5 separate regions of the Homo sapiens genome follow, and all the other regions are linked to region 1. Evidence: fine-mapped expression QTL. A gene starts in region 1. Each other region holds a variant in brackets. All regions are shown on one strand. Distances are between the middles of the regions. Region 1 holds the start of PPFIA4 (PPFI scaffold protein A4). Region 2 has its middle 39 kb from the start of ELF3. Region 3 overlaps PPFIA4 (PPFI scaffold protein A4). Region 4 holds the start of MYOPARR (myogenin promoter associated myogenic regulatory antisense long non coding RNA). Region 5 overlaps PPFIA4 (PPFI scaffold protein A4).

The links.
Region 2: its variant is fine-mapped to the expression of PPFIA4 in sigmoid colon (GTEx, PIP 0.97).
Region 3: its variant is fine-mapped to the expression of PPFIA4 in blood mononuclear cells (TOPMed, PIP above 0.99). The same link has a PIP of 0.9 or more in monocytes and whole blood.
Region 4: its variant is fine-mapped to the expression of PPFIA4 in whole blood (TOPMed, PIP above 0.99). The same link has a PIP of 0.9 or more in neutrophils.
Region 5: its variant is fine-mapped to the expression of PPFIA4 in whole blood (TOPMed, PIP above 0.99).

The regions. Positions count from the first base shown.
Region 1 is chr1:203,024,361-203,028,474 of GRCh38, forward strand. PPFIA4 (PPFI scaffold protein A4) reads left to right here and starts at 2,131. Exons shown (of 30, transcript NM_001304331.2): 1 at 2,131-2,269. It overlaps TMEM183A (transmembrane protein 183A), which reads left to right. Exons shown (of 8, transcript NM_138391.6): 8 at 1-488. RefSeq lists a silencer at 1,921-2,230 and an enhancer at 2,057-2,578.
Region 2 is chr1:202,047,919-202,052,032 of GRCh38, forward strand. No RefSeq gene overlaps it. Among named protein-coding and RNA genes, the nearest start is that of ELF3, 39 kb to the left of the region's middle. The variant C/T (reference allele first, on the strand shown) is at 2,001.
Region 3 is chr1:203,057,881-203,061,994 of GRCh38, forward strand. PPFIA4 (PPFI scaffold protein A4) reads left to right here. Exons shown (of 30, transcript NM_001304331.2): 20 at 1,298-1,391; 21 at 1,890-1,971; 22 at 2,337-2,537; 23 at 3,090-3,152; 24 at 3,772-3,798. Among named protein-coding and RNA genes, the nearest start is that of MYOPARR, 24 kb to the right of the region's middle. RefSeq lists an enhancer at 3,129-3,713. The variant C/G (reference allele first, on the strand shown) is at 1,703.
Region 4 is chr1:203,081,007-203,085,120 of GRCh38, forward strand. It overlaps MYOG (myogenin), which reads right to left. Exons shown (of 3, transcript NM_002479.6): 2 at 3,641-3,722; 3 at 2,123-3,025. The coding sequence ends at 2,904. MYOPARR (myogenin promoter associated myogenic regulatory antisense long non coding RNA) reads left to right here and starts at 2,789. Exons shown (of 3, transcript NR_160550.1): 1 at 2,789-2,973; 2 at 3,366-3,567. The variant C/G (reference allele first, on the strand shown) is at 1,756.
Region 5 is chr1:203,067,804-203,071,917 of GRCh38, forward strand. It overlaps PPFIA4 (PPFI scaffold protein A4), which reads left to right. Exons shown (of 30, transcript NM_001304331.2): 27 at 650-825; 28 at 3,889-3,957. Among named protein-coding and RNA genes, the nearest start is that of MYOPARR, 14 kb to the right of the region's middle. RefSeq lists an enhancer at 1,664-1,713. The variant G/A (reference allele first, on the strand shown) is at 1,578.

The DNA.
Region 1 (4,114 bases):
CCCTCCACCATCCAAAATTAACCAGTGAGCTGGATATTACCTGGATATTGCCAGGAGGTGGGCATTAAGACAGTATTCTTTAAAAGTGAAAATCTTGTGAGGCAAACTGCTAAATTCACATTTTTGTTTTTTTTTTTTTACCATCTTCCCTAGGAATATTCCTAGAAAGCATCTGCTTAATTTTGCTGCTAACAGCTAACCTTATCCCACGTTGAGGGTGGTATTAAAACTGTTCACACAGAGTGAGCCTGGGTCAGTCAAAAACAGAATTTGGGCATTTGAGTGATAACAGACAACCTAAGGACAATGAGCACTTTGCAGATCTCTACAATTAAAAGTTGCCTCTTTGAGGCAGGAGGGGAGAAGCACAGTCCCTGCCAGGTTGCCTGAACTAAAGATGCCATGGAGCAGGAGTGTCTTGGTGCATTGTTCCCCGCTTAGGAGTACCTTTAAAAAGGGGGTGAAATAAATTTGGCTTAATAATTGTATTCTGACTCAGCTCTGAGTTTTTTGTGTCAAATTCCATGGTATGGTGACAGATACAGTACTAGATACTGCCTCAGCTCTCTCTCAGCATAATATTGACAAACATTTGGTAAAATGTGTTACCAGTCGTTATCTTGGCTTCAGCCTTCCTCTGCATTGGCTGAGTTGCCGTTTCTAGCATGATACATGCTTTATTAGTGACAGGATGTGAAGTGTCTCAGGGATTTCCTTTTGGTGAGGACCCCAGACCACCCGAAGAAGAATTAGAACTTTCTGGACTACAGGTTATATACTGTGATTTTGCTCTGTCAAGCAACATAAATTGATCCTTGAACGCTGTGAGAGTTATGGACACAGACCCTCACACAGTTGAAAATCTGCTATGACTTTTGACTGCCCGAAAACTTAATAGCCTACTGTTGACTGGAAGCCTTATTGATAACATAAACAGTTGATTAATGTGCATTTTGTATATGTAGTATATACCTTATTATAATAAGCTCGAGAAAAGAAAATGTTATTAAGAAAATCAAAGAAGAGAAAATACATTTACTGTTCATTAAGTGGGTCATCATGTTGAGCAGGCTGACGAGTAAGAAGAGGAGGGGTAGTCTTGCTGTCTCAGGGGTGGCGGGGAAGGAAGAAAATCTGCATGCAACTGGCCCTGTGCAGTTGAAGGCCCTGTTGTTCAAGGGTCACAGATTTAGCTTCACTTACCCACCCCTCAGATCAGAATTACTCAAGATTTCCCTGTCTTCAAAGAGACGCAAGGAAATTATGCCAAATGGTGAATATATTGGGTGGAAGATAAATGAGAGAAGGTTGTATGTGTCACTGATCTCAACTATAGCATTTGCTGCTGATATAGAACATGCTGTGTATATATCTATAAATACACACACATGAACACATTGCATGTATATAAAAATTGTTCACACTTTTAGTGGTGCTTACTGGGTATTGGTAAAGGATTGAGTAGGCACTGTGATGAAACTTCACAAAGCAGATGGAAAAGATGCATTAATAGCCACAGGGGGCAGGGTAAGGGAGCAATTCAGGAAAATGGAGAGGCTTAGCTAAAATTTGTCAGTCAGGAATTTTGGCATTTGAGACTTGTTTTCATACTATGTATATGTAATAGACAAACCCTTCATTTTGTAGTAACAGTGTTAGAACAGCCAGGTGCCTGAAGGCAAGCGACACAATTCACTGAAGAGCATACTACAGATGTAGTATCCGGATATCAAGTTTCCCCACTTAAAAAATGGGTGCGATCAAAGGAAAAGCAAGGAACGGGCAGGAGAGCAAGCGTGAAAGGTGACAAACTTGACAATTACAAGGCCGAGACTAAGGCCAATTTAGGGAACGGGCTGTTAGACTAGGAACAAGGGCGAGTTCAGAGGGAGGGGCAGAATGTGGGCAGCACTCCTGGGCCCTGAGACCCTTCTGCGGAATAAAACTCTGGCACTTCGCCACCTCCTAGGCTGAACCAAGATGGCGCGCGGCCTCAAAGCGGCGCTCTCGTCACGTGCCCGGACCCGAGGCGCTTGGGGGCGGGAGGCGTGGCCTCGGTCGCGGCAGCCCAGCCCCGCCTAGGGGGCGGAGCCGGGGGGGGTTGTCCGCGGAGGAAGGGGGCGGGGCCCCGCGGCCGCGCGCTTGGGCGGCGGAGGCTGCAGCTACCTCGGCGCCGGCTCGGCTCTAGGACGTGTCGGGCTGCACGGGTCGGGGGCGGCTCCCTGCTGCTTCCGAGCCTAGCCGCCTGGCCTTCGGCATTTGCAGGCAGGTGAGCGCCCAGAGCCTGGACTGGGGTAGGATGCGTCTTTTCCCCATCTCCAGCTCCCCTCGACAGTTTGGGGAGGGGTCTCGTCTATCGCACCTCGGGAAACAGCCCTTTTTGACTCCGTATGTGCTACCTCCGGCAGGCGTCGGTACTGCTTACCCTGCCGCCCCTCGCCCTCCTTTGCGGTGCCCTGTGCCCTTGGGGGTGAGGATAGGGGCGATGCCTGATCTGCGGGGAGGGCGTGGAGTGCGCCCTCTGCTCCATCGGCTTCAGGGGAGGGGGCCGAGTTGGCGAGTCTCCCGGTGGGAACGGAGCAGACTGCGCCCCCATTTCCCCTCCAGGAGAGTCAGAAAAAGCGCCTCTCGGCTCCGGGGCCAACCCCACTCCTTTGGGGACGCGATTCTGATGGGCTGAGGTCTTCGCTCTTCGCGGGGGTCTTAATCTTTCCCGAGTTGCTCATAGCACCCCTGTTCCTGTCGCTAGCTCTCCATTCCTCGAACTGCCAGCCTCAGTCTGTGCCAGAGATGCCCCCATCTCCGCAGTGCCAGGGCGGTGGGGTGGAAGGAGCGGCCAACCCGAGGCCTGGTGGGGGTGGGGACAGGGGTGGGCGCAACAGGAAAAGAGGGCTGGAATAGAGATGCCTGAACTGGGAGGGTGGGAGTGGGGCGCTGACTTACGTCCACGCAGTAGGGATGTTTTCCAGCGCAGATTTTGAGGTTTTGATGGTGGGTGGGAAGAGAGAGGTCGGGCTGGAGGACTTGGAGACATGGTGTAGGTGGTTTTCTTCGAGAAGGAGGAGGGATCCAGGACAAGGTGCCACTAGGAGCTGATGTCACCTTTGAGGAGAGGTGTGCTGGTAGTTTCCATCAGAGGAGCAGGAGAGTTGGGGCCGTTCTGTGTGGAGAGCAAGTGGTTAAGGAGGCGCTGCTTCGCAGGGAGATCCCCTCCTGGTGTGAGCTTAAGGGTCCCCTCCAGGAGCCAGGTTTCAGGGATTTCCCATAGTCCTTTCCAGAGTTCTTGGATCTGGTACCTAGTACTTTGCTCAACATCCAGCAAACATTTGTTGGACACCTACTATCTGCCAGATACTATGCTCGGTGCTAGGTCTTCTGAAGGCAATTTACAGCCACGGAGTAGCTGAAAGGTACACATAGGAGGCACACATAGCAGGTATTCTGTTAACACCCTTCTCACCGCCCATCCCCATTCTGTTACATTGCTGTTGGATTAGAAAAAGAAAGAACTGTGTCCACGTGCTTTCAAACAGCTGTCTGAATTAGACTCCAACCTACACACCCCCTACCACTATTAACTGGCCAGGTAGTCCCAGGGAAGCTGCCTAAGCAAAAGGGCAGCTTGAATGATTTCCCTTGGTTATTTTCTCAGATTTTGTCCTGAGGCTTGAGGAGGCTTCGTGGGGTAAACGGTATCTCAAAGTAAGGAGATAATGAATGACAAAATGGTTATTGGGGGCCAAGAATGTCCTAGACACTCTGTGTAGTGGGAGACGCCATCTCTGGAAGATGGAATAGTGTGGGGGAGGAGGGTGTAGAAGGGAATTCGCATCCAGTGGAGTTGGGGTTTGTGCTGCTGAGCATGTCGTGATGTCAGAACCGTGTGGTGCATGAGGTCTGGCTGCTGGGCTGTAAAGGAGGGCTGGAGGGGCAGGGCATGGCAGGCAGCCAGGCTCCTGGGTCTCATCTCTGAGTTGATTGCTGAAATCTTAGAGTTGGAAAGAGTTGTCAGGGATGGCTTATAGGTCCTCACAGAGCCTCTGAGGATGGCAGAGCTAGAGCTAGGCAAGAGAATGAGTAGTCAGGCTGTGGTGGTGATGAGGTGGGGATGAAG
Region 2 (4,114 bases), 980 kb before region 1:
CACTGTATACAGATTTCATCTTTACTTGACCTTTGCCAAAGAACTATGCATATTCTGGTGATGGTGGTTTTCTTCAACAGATCTTTACGGGGAAGGCCCTCTCATTTCCTCCACACCTTTCCTCTAGTGAAAGCGTTCTCAACCTCCAAGGAGTGTTGGGATTGTCTCCCCAGGTCATATCATCTGTCATCCATATGGGCTGTTAGCTCTGCGATTTTTGTTCTCAGTCCCCAGGCTGTCTCTCAGCTCTAGAAGGAATTGTTCAAGGTCCTCCAGGTCCATGGCTCACTGCCTACTGCCTTTTCCTTTTAGGGTGGTAAATTATGGTAAAGTAAATATATGGGGAAACTAACAATAGATAAGGATTATTCAGGATTTTTTTTGAAACAGGGTTTCACCTGTCACCCAGGCTGGAGTGCAGTGGTACAATCTCGGCTCACTGTAACCTCTACCTCCCAGGTTCAAGAGATTCTTGTGCCTCAGCCTCCTGAGTAGGTGGGATTACAGGTTCCCACCACCACACTGGCTAATTTTTTTTTTTTTTTTTTTTTGAGACGGAGTTTCACTGTTGTTGCCCAGGCTGGAGTGCAATGGTGCGATCTTGGCTCACCACAACCTCCGCCTCCTGGGTTCAAGCGATTCTCCTGCCTTAGCCTCCTGAGTAGCTGGGATTACAGGCATGCACCACCACACCCAGCTAATTTTGTATTTTTAGTAGAGACGGGGTTTCTGTCCATGTTGGTCGGGCTGGTCTCGAACTCCCGACCTCAGGTGATCCGTCTGCCTCAGCCTCCCAAAGTGCTGGGATTACAGGTGTGAGCCATCGTACCTGGCCTTAATTTTTGTATTTTTTAGCAGAGATGAGGTTTCACCCTGTTGGCCAGGCTGGTCTTGAACTCCTGGCCTCAAGTGATCCACACACCTCAGCCTCCCAAAGTGCTGGGATTACAGACATGAGCCACCACTTCTGGCCCCAATATGTCACTTTTACAAAGGGAAACTTATGCCCTGCTTTTAGGCAGAGAGAGGGCGGAGAGCTAGCTTCTCCTGTGTCAGCTATATCTCAGTTGCCTTCAGCCCAAAATAATTATTTTGCCATAGTCTGATGCCCTTCACAGGTTAGTCCTATTCCTAACACAGGCACCCTGGAAGGCTGAAGCCCTCTGTACAGCTCTTGCTCCCTCTAGAAGAGATTTTCTAGCTCTCTTTGCTGTTCCCCGACTCTTTAGAGCCATGACTCTGCCTGTCTCCAGCACTTATTGCTCCATCGTTCTTTCTTAAGCTGGGTTTCCCCTGATCTCTCAGAATATATCATCCCAGAGTCACTAGAAAGAATGGGAGCAGACGGGAAAGGGTGGGGAGAACTACCCCTATTACGTAGGCATGTGTTTTGCATATGTTATCTAAGTCTTTCAACAACCCTGTGAAGTAGGTACTATTATTATCCCTTTCTACTTATAAGGAAATATAAGAGTCATATAGGTTGGGCCGCTCACCCAAGGTCAAGTTGTTACCTTGCAGTGGTGGAGCCTGGACACCAGCCCAGGTCTTGTAGACCAGAGCTTCTCAAACTATTTGTGAAGGACCAATTTTGAAAAAAAAAAAAAAAAAAAAAAGGACCAATTTTGTTTTTGCTTTGGTTTAGGTTGTTTTTAATTTCCAGTCTAAAATTATTGCAAAGCATAATAAAAATGAATTGCTGGAAAAATGAAAAGAAGGAAAGGAAAGGATATACAAATTATAAGCCCATTTTGTTGTTGCTGTTGTTGTTGTTATTGGGTTGAACAGATGTAACATTTTTCTGTCAAATTACTTTAATAGTTTCTAAGCATGGACTGGTACCAACCAGTCTGCAGACCACATCACAGGCTGCATGAAGAGAATCTCTCTGGGGATGGGCTGTGTGGCTCAGGCCTGAAATCCCATCACTTTGGGAGGCTGAGGCAGGCGGGTTGCTTGAGCCTAGCACTTTGAGACCAGCCTTGGAAGCACATTGAGAC[C/T]TCATCTCTATGAATAATTGAAAAATTAGGTGGGAGCTGGGCGCGGTGGCTCATGCCTGTAATCCCAGCACTTTGGGATGACAAGGAGGGCAGATCACTTGAGGTCAGGAGTTCGAGACCAGCCTGGCCAACATGGTGAAACTCTAGTAAAACTACAAAAATTAGCAGGGCGTGGTGGCTGCACACCTGTAATCCCAGCTACTCTGGAAGCTGAGGCAGGAGAATCACATGAATCCGGGAAGCGGAGGTTGCAGTGAACCGAGATCTGCCCACTGCACTCCAGCCTGGGCTACAAAGTGAGACTCCACTTCAAAAAAAAAAAGAAAGAAAAAGAAAAGAAAAGAAAAATTAGGCCAGGTGCAGTGGCTCATGCCCGTAATCCCAACACTCTGGGAAGCTGAGACAGGCGGATCACTTTAGGTCAGGAGTTCCAGACCAGCCTGGCCAACATGGTAAAACCCCGTCTCTACTACAAATACAAAAATTAGGCCGGGCGCGGTGGCTCACGCCTGTAATCCCAGCACTTTGGGAGGTTGAGGTGTGTGGATCACAAGGTCAGGAGATCGAGACCATCCTGGCTAACACAGTGAAACACCATCTCTACTAAAAATACAAAAAATTGCCGGGCGCGGTGGCTCACGCCTGTAATCCCAGCACTTTGGGAGGCCGAGACAGGTGGATCACGAGGTCAGGAGATCGAGCCCGTCCTGGCTAACACGGTGAAACCCTGTCCCTACTAAAAATAATAAAAAAATTAGCCGGGTGTGGTGGCAGGCGCCTGTAGTCCCAGCTACTCGGGAGGTGGAGGCAGGAGAATGGCGTGAATCCGGGAGGCGGAGCTTGCAGTGAGCCGAGATCACGTCACTGCACTCCAGCCTGGGCGACAGAGTGAGACTCCGTCTCAAAAAAAAAAATACAAAAAATACAAAAAATTAGCTGGGCGTGGTTGCAGATGGCTGTAATCCCAGCTACTTGGGAGGCTGAGGCAGGAGAATGGCATGAACCCAGGAGGCGGAGCTTGCAGTGAGCCGAGATCCTGCCACTGCACTCCAGCCTAGGCGACAGAGCGAGACTCTGTCTCAAAAAAATAATAAAAATAAATAAATGTTTTTGTTGTTGTTGAGACGGAATCTCGCTCTGTTCCCTGGGCTGGAGTGCAATGGCACGATCTTGGCTCACTGCAACCTCTGCCTCCCGAGTTCAAGTGATTCTCCTGCCTCAGCCTCCTGAGTAGCTGGGATTACAGGTGCCCGCCACTGTGCCCGGCTACTTTTTGTAGTTTTAGTAGAGACAGGGTTTCACTATGTTAGTCAGGCTGGTCTTGAACTCCTGACCTCAGGTGATCTGCCCGCCTCGGCCTCCCAAAGTGCTGGGATTACAGTCGTGAGCCACCGCGCCTGGCGAGACTCACTCTTGAGGTTGGCCCAGGTTACCGAGGAGTATGTCACGGTCTTCAGGTTTTTTGATCTTAGAAAAGATTGAGAGTAACTCTGTCTATCTGTAAGAGTGTACATTGCCAGAAAAATGTCTGGAAGGACACTCACTAATAGGCTGTCAGTTGCTATCTCTGGGGGTAGAATTTAATATGATTTTTCATTTCTTCTTTCTACCCATTGGGCACTGATTGAATCATATAATAGCCATGTACTTTTTAAAAATAGCAGCTTCTTTGAGATTTAATTCACGATACCATAAAATTCATCCTTTAAATGTATACACTTCAGTGGTTTCTAATACATTCACAGAATTGTGCAGCCATCACCACTAGCTCGTTTCAGAACATTTTTATCACTCCAGAAAGAAACGCTGTGCCCATTAACAGCCACTCCCCATTTCTCTCTCCCCTCAGTCTCTGGCAACCACTAATCTACTTTCTGTCTCTATAGATTTGGATATTCTGGACATTTCACATAAATGGAATCATACAACTTACGGTCTTATGGGATTGGCTCTTGCATTTGGCATATCCTTTTCAAGTTTCCACCATGTTGTTGGATGTACTTCACTACTTTTTATTGCCGAATAATATTCCAACCAAGTTCTACTGTTACAAATATTTTGCAAAAAGTTGGTGGGGGCCAGGCGCAGTGGTTCACGCCTGTAATCCCAGCACT
Region 3 (4,114 bases), 34 kb after region 1:
GTGGAGGAAGGGGTTGGTCTGGGAAAGGCAAAAGTTTGTGGGTGTGAGAGGTTGGTATGTACTTATGCATATTCTGAGTTGAGAAGGAGGAGGGTGGGCGGAGTGGGGAGATGGGACTGGACAGCTAGGCTGGGGCCAGCTGTGAGGGCCTTGCAGCATCTGTTTTAGTTTAAGAGTTCCCCTGAGGCAGTGGGAGCATTGATGAATTTCGTGCAGGGGAGGAACTCATCAACTAGAATAAAGGAACCTTTGGACCCAAATGCATAATTAGACCTTTCTGCAGCTCAGGAAGATGTGAATCAGAAGACAGCTAGCTGGCTGAGGAGGAGGAGGAGGGAGAGCACGCGAGGAGGAGGTTGGGGAAAGAGGAAGGAGAAAGAGGAATTTGCTGAGACAGGGAGAGGTCTGTGTGTGAAGGAAAGGGGTGGTCTGGGAACGGGGAGGAGGAACATGGCCACCTCTGCTCAGAATATGGGAGTGTCAGCCCAGAGAATGAGGTCCAGCTCCTTCTTCCCCAGTCCACAGGGGTGAGGGGAGTTGTGGAGCTGGCCACAGACAGGGGAAGCTGAACGGTTTGATCAGGGGAAGAAGCATTTTGGGTGAAGCCTTATGATTTTCGATGCTCTCCACACACGTTGGCACCTAAACCTGAGACAGCACCTCAGATTGGTTTCTGGATTACCCAAACTTGTTGCCTACTGTGCACTGTGGGGGGGTGACCGGGACTTAAAAGAATTCTAAGATTCTGCCTCTGGCCACGAATTCTGAAGGGTTCTAGCATCAATTCAAGGAGATGTTTAGTAGAAGACAGAACTCTGCATGTTCCCCTTTGTGGTTTTGTGCAAGTGAATGCACCCAGAGAAGGAGGCTCAGAGACACAGCTCTCAGTGTGTGGATTTCCACACCCCTGACCCAAGCCAGGGTCATCCTTCTCTCTGAGCCTTGTAGCCCACTTGTGTTTGGGGCTCTGGGTTTCCTTTGCACCTTGGCTTGGAGGAAGGACAGGTTCTGTCTAGGATTCTAGGGTCGATAACTTGGGTCCATCTGGCTGGAAAACACCCCCAAGGCTGAGGCTCCTGGGGAGACTCTCTGAACTGGGGATGACCCGCTTGATGCCATTCTCTGAGACTGCTTGGATGCAGGGACACTGAGCAGAAGCTCCAGGAATAATGGTCCCGTCAGGCCATGGGTTGTCCTCTGCCAAGGAGCCTCCTGCTGCTTCTGTTCCCCACCCCTGATCCAGGCAAGGGAGGAGAGGCAGAGGGGCTGGCTGACACACACATCTCTTTCCTTGTAGTTCTGCTAACAGACTCCGAATTCAGTATGCAGGAGCCTATGGTGCCTGCCAAGCTGGGGACCCAGGCAGAGAAGGACCGGCGGCTAAAGAAGAAGTAAGAGCCACAGGCCAGGGTCTGCCAGGGTGGGGCCCAGCCCCCTACCCACTTCCCTTCCCCTGGGCTGCTGTGAAACTGAGCTCAGAGACCCAGACCCCAGCAAGGCCCTTCCTGAACTGAGTTGGTCTGGTCCATGTGGGCACAGCAGGGCTGGGAGGAGGTTCTTAGGATGAGCCTAGGGAGAAGGAGGCAAGGGGGTTATGGGACAGTGACCTGGGTCCTCTGGGTCTCTGGCAGGGCAGATTGAAATCTCTAAGTCAATGTCAGGTCACATGCAAACAGAGAGCTCCTCGCCCTCTTGGGGTGGT[C/G]AGGTGTTCCTGCCCCATTTCTTGTTGTATTTCTTCAGAGGAAGAAGGAAGAGCAGAGCAGAGGAAGTCCAGGGTGGGGAGCAAGGGTTGTGGGTCTCCAGCTCTTGCACAGCCCAGTGGTCCCTGGAGCAAGAACAGTTAAGGGAGAAGGAAGAACTAGTGAGTCTGTTGTTCCTCTTCCTATAAGACACCAGCTGCTTGAAGATGCCCGCAGGAAAGGAATGCCCTTTGCCCAGTGGGATGGTCCTACTGTGGTCTCCTGGTTGGAGGTAAGCCTGAGCAAAGGGAGTCCACTCAGGGGTCTGGAGGGAAGGATGCTTGGGGTGGGCAGAGGGGTGGTGTCCTAGAACTTTTACAGTGTGTTTCTCCCCTGCCAAGTGGAAGTGTGCCATACCTAGCATTTAGCCCCCCTCCCCCTCCCCAACACACACACATACCAGTCGCAGGAGAGAGTTGATGCTACTTTTAATCTGTAAAATGGGAGAGTGAGGGGTTTGATGACCGCCACATTCCTATGATCTGTATTTGCTATTCGAGTCCGTGGATGAGGCCTGGCCCTTGCCCCTTGCTGTTGCCAAACTCTTGGTGGTAGGGCCCAGGCCTTGAATTACCTCCCTGTGCCCGGTGTCTGCAGCTCTGGGTGGGGATGCCTGCCTGGTATGTGGCAGCCTGCCGGGCCAACGTCAAGAGTGGTGCCATCATGTCCGCTCTGTCGGACACAGAGATCCAGCGGGAGATCGGCATCAGCAATGCCCTGCACCGGCTCAAGCTCCGCCTGGCCATTCAGGAGATGGTGTCATTGACCAGCCCCTCTGCCCCACCCACCTCCAGGACTGTGAGTGGCCCCTCCTTTGCCCAGGACATTTTCAGAGGTCCTGGAACATAGTTTGCAAGGTCTCCTGTTGGGCTTTGGGAAGATGGCAGCATTGAGCCCTGCCCCTTCCTTCCCATCCTCACAAAGGGCTCTCCCTGGTCTTCAGGAGGATATGATGTTGATTCTAGGAGGATACCAGCAGCCTTGGTTCCCTGCCTTTCACATACCACCCATGGGGCTCCATCTCCCCATCCCTACTCTGCCAAAATTTCCACGTCTCTGGGCAGTTTCCAGGATGGGCTTTCTGGGGTTTTATATGGTTGTCAGGTTGGGGGAAACAAAGGGAAGAGGGCATTTGTGAATATTGTCTTGGTCCTCTAACACAAGAATGCGGACTGCTCTGTGGGCCCCTGGGGTGGAGTCTTTCATTGTCGGCCATCTCCATGATTGAGACCAGCCCCCATTTCAGAGGACTCAGGGAGGGAGCTTTGTCCTTGTCCTTTGGGCTCCCAGCCTGATGGGGATCCTGGGGACCCACACCCAGGACCAGCTAGGTTTCCTCTCTGCCTGCAGTCTTCTGGGAATGTCTGGGTCACCCATGAAGAGATGGAAACTCTGGAAACATCTACTAAAACAGTGAGTCTGGCCCTTGGCCTTTGTCCCTGGGCCTGGGGTTGGGACTGATACTCCCATGAGGATGAGGGGAAGGCTGTGGGCAGTCAGAGTGGGCTGCCATCGATCTCACGTGAGGTTGGTATCCCTGAGGTGTGATCTGCTGTCACGGTGGAGGGTTGTCGGGAGAGGGGTGAGGCTGGGAGCGGAGCAGTTTGTATGTGTGTGATCCTTCCCAGGAGGTCACAAGCTTGCCCTGGGCCACTGGTGTGCTACAGCGGAGGAGAGTTGGGCTGGGGAGGGCTTTGCCCTGCTATGGACCTGAGCCACAGAGTCTCTGCCCTTGTGCTTCCTCCCTGGTGGAGGAATGGGGAGTGTTGGGAGAGCTGGGCATCTTGCCTGGCTCCCAGTCAAGCCTGGGAGGTGTGTGTTTTTGCCACACACACATTTGCCCCACCTCAACGCAAACATGGGTGCACACACCAACCTTGTGTTCTCTCTTAACCATCCTGACGAGCTTTCCCCAGTCACCCAGCCAGATACTGGGATGTCTTTTTCCTCTCCTTGATGGGGCCTAGGGTAGAGCTGATGGGTTTCTTGACTTTGCCTGTTTCCCCTAACACGCTGCACTCGTTCCTGCTAGGACAGTGAGGAGGGCAGCTGGGCTCAGGTAAGACTCCCTACCCTGTCTAGAACCAGCTCCCAAAACTTCAGGACAGTGTTCTTCTGGTAGGTTCTCTCCGCAGCAGGAATCTCTGAGTCCTTCATATGAAAAGCCCTGGACATAGGTTCTCTGCTCCCATCAGAGTGCCCCCCGCCCCCACCCAGTTCCCTCAAACTGCTTGTTCTGGTTTCTCAGGGTGGCAGGTGAGGAGCCCTGGAGGACTGTGGCCCCTGCATTCCTGGCCCTTCTCCTCAGTCTCATTCTTTTCCTGGGAATAATCAGACCTAGATTAGTATGAGTCTTCTTCCTCTCCCTGTCCCTC
Region 4 (4,114 bases), 57 kb after region 1:
ATTGGTATGCCAATTTTAAGTAATATTTATCTTTTCATTGTAGTGGATTCCCTAAAGTCCATTATTAAGCAACATTTGATTAATACAGTTTGATTTATTGTAGGTGCTTCCAACTAAAGAACAAATTTGAGCTAATCTCCCTAAAGAACTCCAACTCATTATTCATTAATTGGAGTCTTTTCTGTAATTCTGTTGTGAAGATTAAGCATTTGCTAATTTAAGAAAGTCCCCATGCTTCGATAACAATTGTTTATTCTGTGAAAATAACGAGTGAGGCTGGCCTGCTGCTTAGCAGAGTTTGCCATTCACACCTGTGGAATTCTAGCAAACTGTTTTTCCCTTAAGGACTTAAAGACATGAAAAAGTAAGTAGACAGTGACTACAGTGCTGAGGACTGTTCATTCTTTCCCGAGTCTGAATGTGACCCTCACTGTCTAATTGTCAGGATAACTGAAGAGGAGCAGACTTAAAAAATATATCCAGCAGCCCCAGAACCTGTCCTTCAGCAGAGCTGAGTGCCTTCCTTGGCCAGCCCTTCTTATCCCAGTAAGAAGGAGGGCAAGGGATGGGCAGGTCATAGCTGCAGGGGAGAGGGTGGTTTCCACCCTGGGAGTGTGGGAGGTGCCAGGGGCAGAGGAAATGAACTTGAAGGGAGACGATCCTCCATGAATGTGTTCTGAGTATTTTCGGAGGGTAATAAGGGAGTGAATGTAGATTCCAGAGCCAAGGCACTGCAGCCCACCCAGTTGCCCTCCTCATTCCCCAGGGCAGTGAATCAGGGCTAAGAGTCATGGAAATGACCTTGGTCTTCCTCTCCAGCCCCTCCAAGGGGGAAAGACTAAACTCAGTGATACCAACTTGAAAAGAAGAAAATCCCACCAATGGGAGCAGAGTAGGCCAATTTGCAATTCCCAATAAGCCCTGCCTGACTGGTTTGGGACAAGCAGGCAGTGGGGGAGACCCTCCCTTCTGCACCCTCGCCTGAGTTCTGGGAGCCTCCAGAGGCTTCTTCTGATTCTTTTCCTTAGGCAGAGTTTCTGAAGAAACTCGGGGGGCACAGTGGTAACTCTCCTCTCCAGCAGTAAGGTCAGGAGGGTGGGTGTGGGAGAGATGGCCCAGCTGAGCCCGGAGCTGGTGCAGGGTGGTCGCTAGAGCCTCAGGCAACACTGGGTTAAGTCCGTTGTCAAGGGCCCCGAAGGATTAAGCAGGGCTGGAACGTACCATGCTCTGAATCCCTGCTTCGGTGATGATTCTGAAACTTATAATTTGCAATAAATCTGATGAACTTAGCCCCAGGCAGTTGGAATTAATAAAGTTTTCAGTAGATGTCCATGTTCCGTTTGAATTCTAGCTCCTGTTAACTCCCCAGTTAATCCTCATGTAATGTCTACCCAAAAATCTCTGTTCTCAATTTCCCACCCACCTTCTAACCTCAGGAAGCTAATGTTTGAAAATAGCACCCCAAATGAAGAGAACCCCAGCTTCTCTTCGATTGTTCTTTGTGGACCCCTTTACCCTCCCCGAGCTAAATCTGAATCTCCTTCATGCTGGGAGCTGCAAGCAGGAACCACAATCCCCTTCGGCCTGAAGGGAATGGAGGAGAATGGGGAGGGGCCATGCTATTTGGCCCGCAAGGAAATGACAGTGTCTGATCCCCCTTCCTCACCTCCCACTTCTCTACAGGGCTCCTGGTATTGTGACACCAGGGCAGAGGTGGGGACTAGGGAAGGGAAACCACAACTTCTAGCTCTGCAC[C/G]TTGGCTGTGGGCTGAGCACTGGGCTTACGAGGTGCTCAGTTAACTGAAACCAGCGGACCTGTTGGGACATAACACAGAGCACAGCAGCCTGTGAGCAGTGGCTTTGAAGTATAGTCATAGCCAGTTGTCCTCCGTGTCCCACAAGGATGTCTGTGGAATCTGGTCTCCACCTAGACTGAGGTCCAGACATGCTCGATTTCCTTTATCATGGTGAAAAGAGCAGGGGTCCCCAGTGCCTAGTGACCACCAGCAAGATGAGGCCCTTAGCGCTGTGGAGCCCCACCCACTAGGGTGTGTCTGGACTGCTCAGTGGGAAGGGGCAGGGCTGTCAGTCATTTCCCTCCCTCTGCATCATCACCGACACTCTTCTGGCAACCAGTCTTTATTCATTTTTTAAAAAAGGAAATCCAAATAAGTTAGCAAAAAAAAAAAAAAAAAAAAAAAATACAAAACAATGGCAAAACCACACAATGCTTTGTTAACAAAAGAAATCACCCCCAAGAGGCCCCAACCCCTTTTCCCTGCCTGTCCCCGGCAACTTCAGCACAGGAGACCTTGGTCGGATGGCAGCTTTACAAACAACACACGAAACAAAACAAAACATAAAACCACTGGAAGGTTCCCAATATTCACTGCAAAAGTTTGGCCCCCCAGGGACTTGGGAACAGAGGGCTGTTCCTCTCCCCTTCTTCTCTCTCAATTCAGGGCAGGCCCAGCCCAGCCACTGGCATCGGGAAGAGACCAGAACAGGAGACGTGCACAGCTTGTCCAGGTCAGGGCACTGCGTCTCTCAAACCGTTTCACTTGGGGGGTGGAATTAGAGGCCGCGTTATGATAAAAAGGAAGCTCCTGAGTTTGCCCCCTGAGCTGGGGCATACACGAGGGGGCGCTCTGGTCCCCTGCTTTACCTCCCTGGAAAGGGGATGCCCTCTCCTCTAAGGAGGCAGCTGAATGAGGGCGTCCAGTCCCTTGCTGGGGGGTGGGTTAACCTTACATGGATGAGGAAGGGGATAGTCTGGCCTATGGCACCCCAGAGCTGGCTTCCTAGCATCAGGGCAGCCTGGCTTAGGAGGCCCCTGCTACAGAAGTAGTGGCATCTGTGGCCAGCTTGGGGGGCTCGCAAGGATGCCCGGCTTGGAAGACAATCTCAGTTGGGCATGGTTTCATCTGGGAAGGCCACAGACACATCTTCCACTGTGATGCTGTCCACGATGGAGGTGAGGGAGTGCAGGTTGTGGGCATCTGTAGGGTCAGCCGTGAGCAGATGATCTGTAAGGGGAGGTGGGAAGGTGGTACCTGGGTGAGCAGTGGGGGTTCTTGAGGCCCAGAATAGAGGATGGGACCCTTGGGGTGACAGAGGTTTTCCAGGACAGATGAATGACAAAGCTCCGGAGTTCTACTCCCTAGTCCCTGCCTTTCCCCATGCTCTGTGAGTGTGTGTGTGTGTGTGTGTGTGTGTGTGTGTGTGTGTATGCGCCTCTTTTCTGAACTCCCCTAGTAGGTAGGGTTTGGAAGCAGCCACTCAAGTTGGAGCAGGATGGAGCTCCCCAGAGACTGGACCTGCCCTTTGCTCGGCCCAGTTTTGCAGCACTGACTCAGCACTTCACAGGGACCCCTGGGGCAGGGACATTGTCCTCTCTGTGGAGAAGGTCAACCACCAGGCATCAGCTGGGGAGCTGCAGGAGCTACTATCACTCCTTTGCTGGTCAAGACTGCAGGGGCACACAGAACCTCCCAGCCCACCCTTTGGGCCTTGGAGTCAGCAGGTCCCTAGAGAGACCCAAGGGAAGAGGACCGGAGCAAGGAATAAGGTAAGAGGGGAGAACCTGGCCCAGGGAGGGACTGAGGGATTGGAGCCAAGGTTACCAGTCAGGCCTTACTTACCCCCTGGGTTGGCGCTGAACTCCAGTGCACTGCCCCACTCTGGACTGCAGGAGGCGCTGTGAGAGCTGCATTCGCTGGGCACCTGCAAGACAGGGCGAAGGCCCAAGGTCGGGGCACAGCCATTCTTTGATGTCTCTCTCTGCCTAGTCCCAGTGGGCAGAAGTACCTGTGGTGGGGTTGGAGGGTGGGCCACAGGCTGTGGCCTTCCAGCCCAGGCCATCCCCAACCCCAGAATCTTTGTAACTAGCTCCTCTCACACCCCAGAGGCCCTGCTTCCAGGCCTTCCTGGCTTCCATCCTGGGTGGTGGTTCTGCTCTCACAGGACACCAGCTTAAAGGGGTCCCTGGTTCTCCTGACTCTGGCGATAAGGGTGATGGAGACAGATTTTGTGGCCCAGTGAAGGTCGCTCTGTGCAGGCCTGCTGGAGTTCCAATGAGACTGAGTGGGTTTTCTCTCTGCTCAGCCACACCCAGG
Region 5 (4,114 bases), 43 kb after region 1:
AGGCTTGGAGAGGGTTCGGGAGCAGCCTGCTTGGCTGGTCCCTGCCTTGGGCCAAGTGGAGGGGAGGCATTCTGTGTCTCAGGGAATCTTCCAGTCTGAAAAGGAAGATGCAGCCTCACCTTAGGGAGCTCCCAGTCTGATGGAGGAGACATAGTCCATGCCAAGTTGTCTATAATTCCCCTCCCTCAACCCCACATACCAGATAGCAGCCACCAACTGGACAAATGCAGTGAATCCTCTGGGACGGTGTTATAGACTGGTGTGCCTGTGGAACTTGTTGATCTGGATGGGGCTGGATGGGAGATGCAAGTCTTAGAGGAGACCTTGAAGGTGGAAAGAATAAGAAGGCCATTCCAGCTTGGGTCAGGGGGATGACCCGTGCAAGGGTTCTGGGGAGAAAGCTTGGAGCCTGTTGGCCTGACCCCGGGTCCTGTAAACTGGCAGGGATGGAGTGAGTGGGGGGTTGGTTCCCCAGGCACCCAGGTGCCAGGGAGGAGAGAAAGAAGATATGGAAATTTAGGGATGGAGTGGGGGTCAGAGAGCAGGGTGGACTGCGGCTCTGGGTTTAGGGAGCTCTGCTTCTGTCCTTGGAGGGCCCTTGATGAAACGTAGTATCTCCTTCCGTCCCTTTTCTTCCCCCACACTCCAGATGTGTTAGTCTGGACCAACGACCAGGTGGTTCATTGGGTCCAGTCTATTGGGCTCCGGGACTACGCAGGAAACCTGCATGAGAGTGGTGTGCATGGAGCCTTGCTGGCCCTGGACGAGAACTTCGACCACAACACACTGGCCCTGATCCTCCAGATCCCCACACAGAACACCCAGGTGGGCAGCCTTTTAATCAGTCAACTTGAGTCTCTCCCTGTATCCCTCACTTGCTCTCTTTCTTTCCCTCATACACAAAGGCTTAGGTATCTTGGGGGGTGGGGAGCTTTTCTAGGGCCTATGCCAGAGGGGATCGCAATGTCCTCAATTCTCCAAGTGATCGCTGTGCATAAGCAAGCCCTCATGGGAACACATGGCCTTCACATACAGAGCACACCTAGCGTGGGCCTGGCACACAGTGTGCTCTTACAATGCGCATCCCCGTCCTGCCCTGGGTACCTCTATCTCCTCCTAACCCCACTTCATAGCTGAGACTCTGAGCCTTCCTTTTCATCCTGCTTCTCTGATCTGACTTTTCTTAGAGGGGAATGAGCCCCAGGGCCCCTAGGGACCAGAGAGCCCATATCACCTTTGTCTACCACCCTAGGGATCTGCTCCTGGGCCCCCAGCCTTAAAAAAGCTAAATATACCAAATTACACAACCCAGAGCCTCTCCACACCAGGGCTTTGGCTCTCTGTCAACAGCTCAAATGATTAAACATCTCATGAAATTACATTTCATCATTTTTATGGAGCTGTCATCTAAGAATATATCTAAATTCTCTTGAACCTATTTATATTTTTGGCCTTTCTAACTTCCTGTGGGTAATAGATTCTAGAAGTACTGCTTGTTGTGTAGAGTACTTCCTGATTTTATTTGTCCTGAAAATGCCCCTGTCAGGCCCCTGGGGAAGGAACTACCTCCTCTTGAT[G/A]GTTTAGGTTTGGTAAGGATATTTGTATTTAACTAGTTCTCACCTTTTATGATTTCATAAACTCTGATTGTATTGCCTCTGGGCCCAAGCCTTTGTCTCTCCAGACGGAGTGTTCTTAATTCTTTTAGGCTTTCCTCATATAGACTCGCCTCTGTCCCCTGATTGTTTTAGCTGCCCTTGTCTGGACTGTTTGCAGCTGTCAGATCTCTTTTGAAATTCAGCCACCAGAGCTGCACAGGCTATTCTGGGAGCAGACACGTTTTGGCTTGAATGAGGGTAGGGCTGTGTTGTCTCGTAATTCTGGGCAGTGTGTTGGCCTTTTGGGGGTGGTGGCAGTGCACAGGGCCATTGTGTCCTGTAGGCATTCTGCAGTGACCCCCCCGCCCCGCCCCCACCCCAACCAGTCAAAATAGATAGGACAGATCCCTTCATTCTCCAAGAGGAGCCTGGATTTTTCCCCCAAGTGCGTTCTCTCCACTTGCCCACTTCGGGCAAGCCTCGTCTGCCACTTTGCTGCCCACTCACCTCTCTTTGTGAGACGCTTCTGAAATTTACACCTATCCTCCTCACCTTTCACTGCCCAGAGGAGCAGTGTCATTTGGATACTTGAAATTTACTGTGCTTCTCCTTTCAGATCATTTCTAAAAATGTTATGTTCCCAATACTGGCACAGACTGTCCTTATGGAACTCTACGCTTAATATTTTCTACCTAGAAATGGACTTTTCTCTTTCTTTGATTTCCTATCTCTAATGCATTCAGTTTTGGAGGATAGCAGTAATTCTGTAAATAGTAGCAGGGACACCTCCCTATGGCTTTCTAACCTTTCTTAATTTCCTGACCCCGTCATTGAGCTTAGCTGTTGGGAGAAGTAGTGTGTGACCCAATACGGAATCCCTCATTTAAAATGGTTAAAAATGGCTCGGTGTGGTAGCTCAGGCCTGTATGCTCAGCATTTTGGGAGGTCAAGGTGGGAGGATTGCTTGAGGCCAGGAGTTTAAGACCAGCCTGGGCAACATAGTGAGACCCAGTCTCTACAAAAAGTTTAAAAAATTAACTGGGTTTGGTAATGCGTGACTGTAGTCCCAATTACTCGGGAGGCTGAGGCGGGAGTTTTGCTTGAGCCCAGGAGTTTAAGGCTGCAGTGAGCCATGATTGTGCCACTGCACTCCAGCCTGGGCAACAGAATGAGACCCTGTCTCCCTCAAAAAAAAAAAAAAAAAAAAAGGTTAAAAATATCTGGTAGCAGTTTTGAAAACTTTTCTGTTTTTGGCATTTCTGAAAACTCTGAATGAGTTAATCTCCTGGGAGGCCTAGAGAGAGTCTGTATGCACACAGCCCAGGGACAACCAGTATCCACAGCTGAGCAGGCTTCCTAATTTTAAGTTTTTGATGTGAAAACTTATCAGATATATTTATTTAATCCAAATCAGTCATGTTCTGGTTATCCATGGTTTACATGCTTACTTACCCCTCCAGAAAGAGAAAGACAGGCACAATTTTCCCCTTTCAGACAATTTTTTTTCCAAGTAGGTGACGTCTCTTTATCTATGTGTTCTATGATCCCACTTTTTTGTTTTTTTTTTTTCTTAGAGACAGGGTCTTGTTCTATCACCCGATCTGGAGTGCAGGTGTGATCATAGCTCACTGTAGCCTCAGACTCCTGGGATCAAGCTATCCTCCTGCCCAACTAACTGGTAGCTGGGACTGTAGGTGTTCACAACCATGCCCAGTTAATTAAATTTTTTTTTTTTTTTGAGACAGGGTCTCAGTATGTTGCCAAGACTGCTATTTTTTTTTTTTTTTTTGAGACAGAGTCTCACTCTGTCCCCCAGGCTGGAGTGCAGTAGTGCCATTTCGGCTCACTGCAAGCTCCGCCTCCCGGGTTCAAGCAATTCTCCTGCCTCAGCCTCCCGAGTAGCTGGGACTACAGGCGCCTGCCACACCATGCCTGGCTAATTTTTTGTATTTTTCGTAGAGACGGGGTTTCACTGTGTTAGTCAGGATGGTCTTGACCTTCTGACCTTGTGATCTACCCGCCTCGGCCTCCCAAAGTGCCCGGCCACTACTTTAAAAAAAAAAATTATGTTGTTCTAATTTGCTGTATATGAAAGAATCCTAGGCTTACAGCTTTACTTATGAGTTTGCTTGAAGGAGCAGCTTCAAAAAGGTGTGTAAAGGCCTCTAATGGGCTAAATGCACTGGAGCCTTGCATCTCTGACCTTGGACCCTTGGAAAATGGTGAAAGATGGCATAAAGGTAGTTAACTATAGCCCTTCCCACCTTTCCCTCTCCTGCTCTATGGACTGCAGGCACGCCAAGTGATGGAAAGAGAGTTCAATAACCTGTTGGCCTTGGGCACAGACCGGAAGCTGGATGACGTGAGTACCTGGCCATGAATTAGGAGCCTTGGGGATTTGGTCATCTTCGTTGGATTGAGGTTCATGAGTTCTGCCTTCCCTGGGCTAATTGTTGGAAGGCTAGTCTATGGGAGGAGAGCCAGAGGGGATGGGGATAATGTCAGGGGGTTGAGGAGGT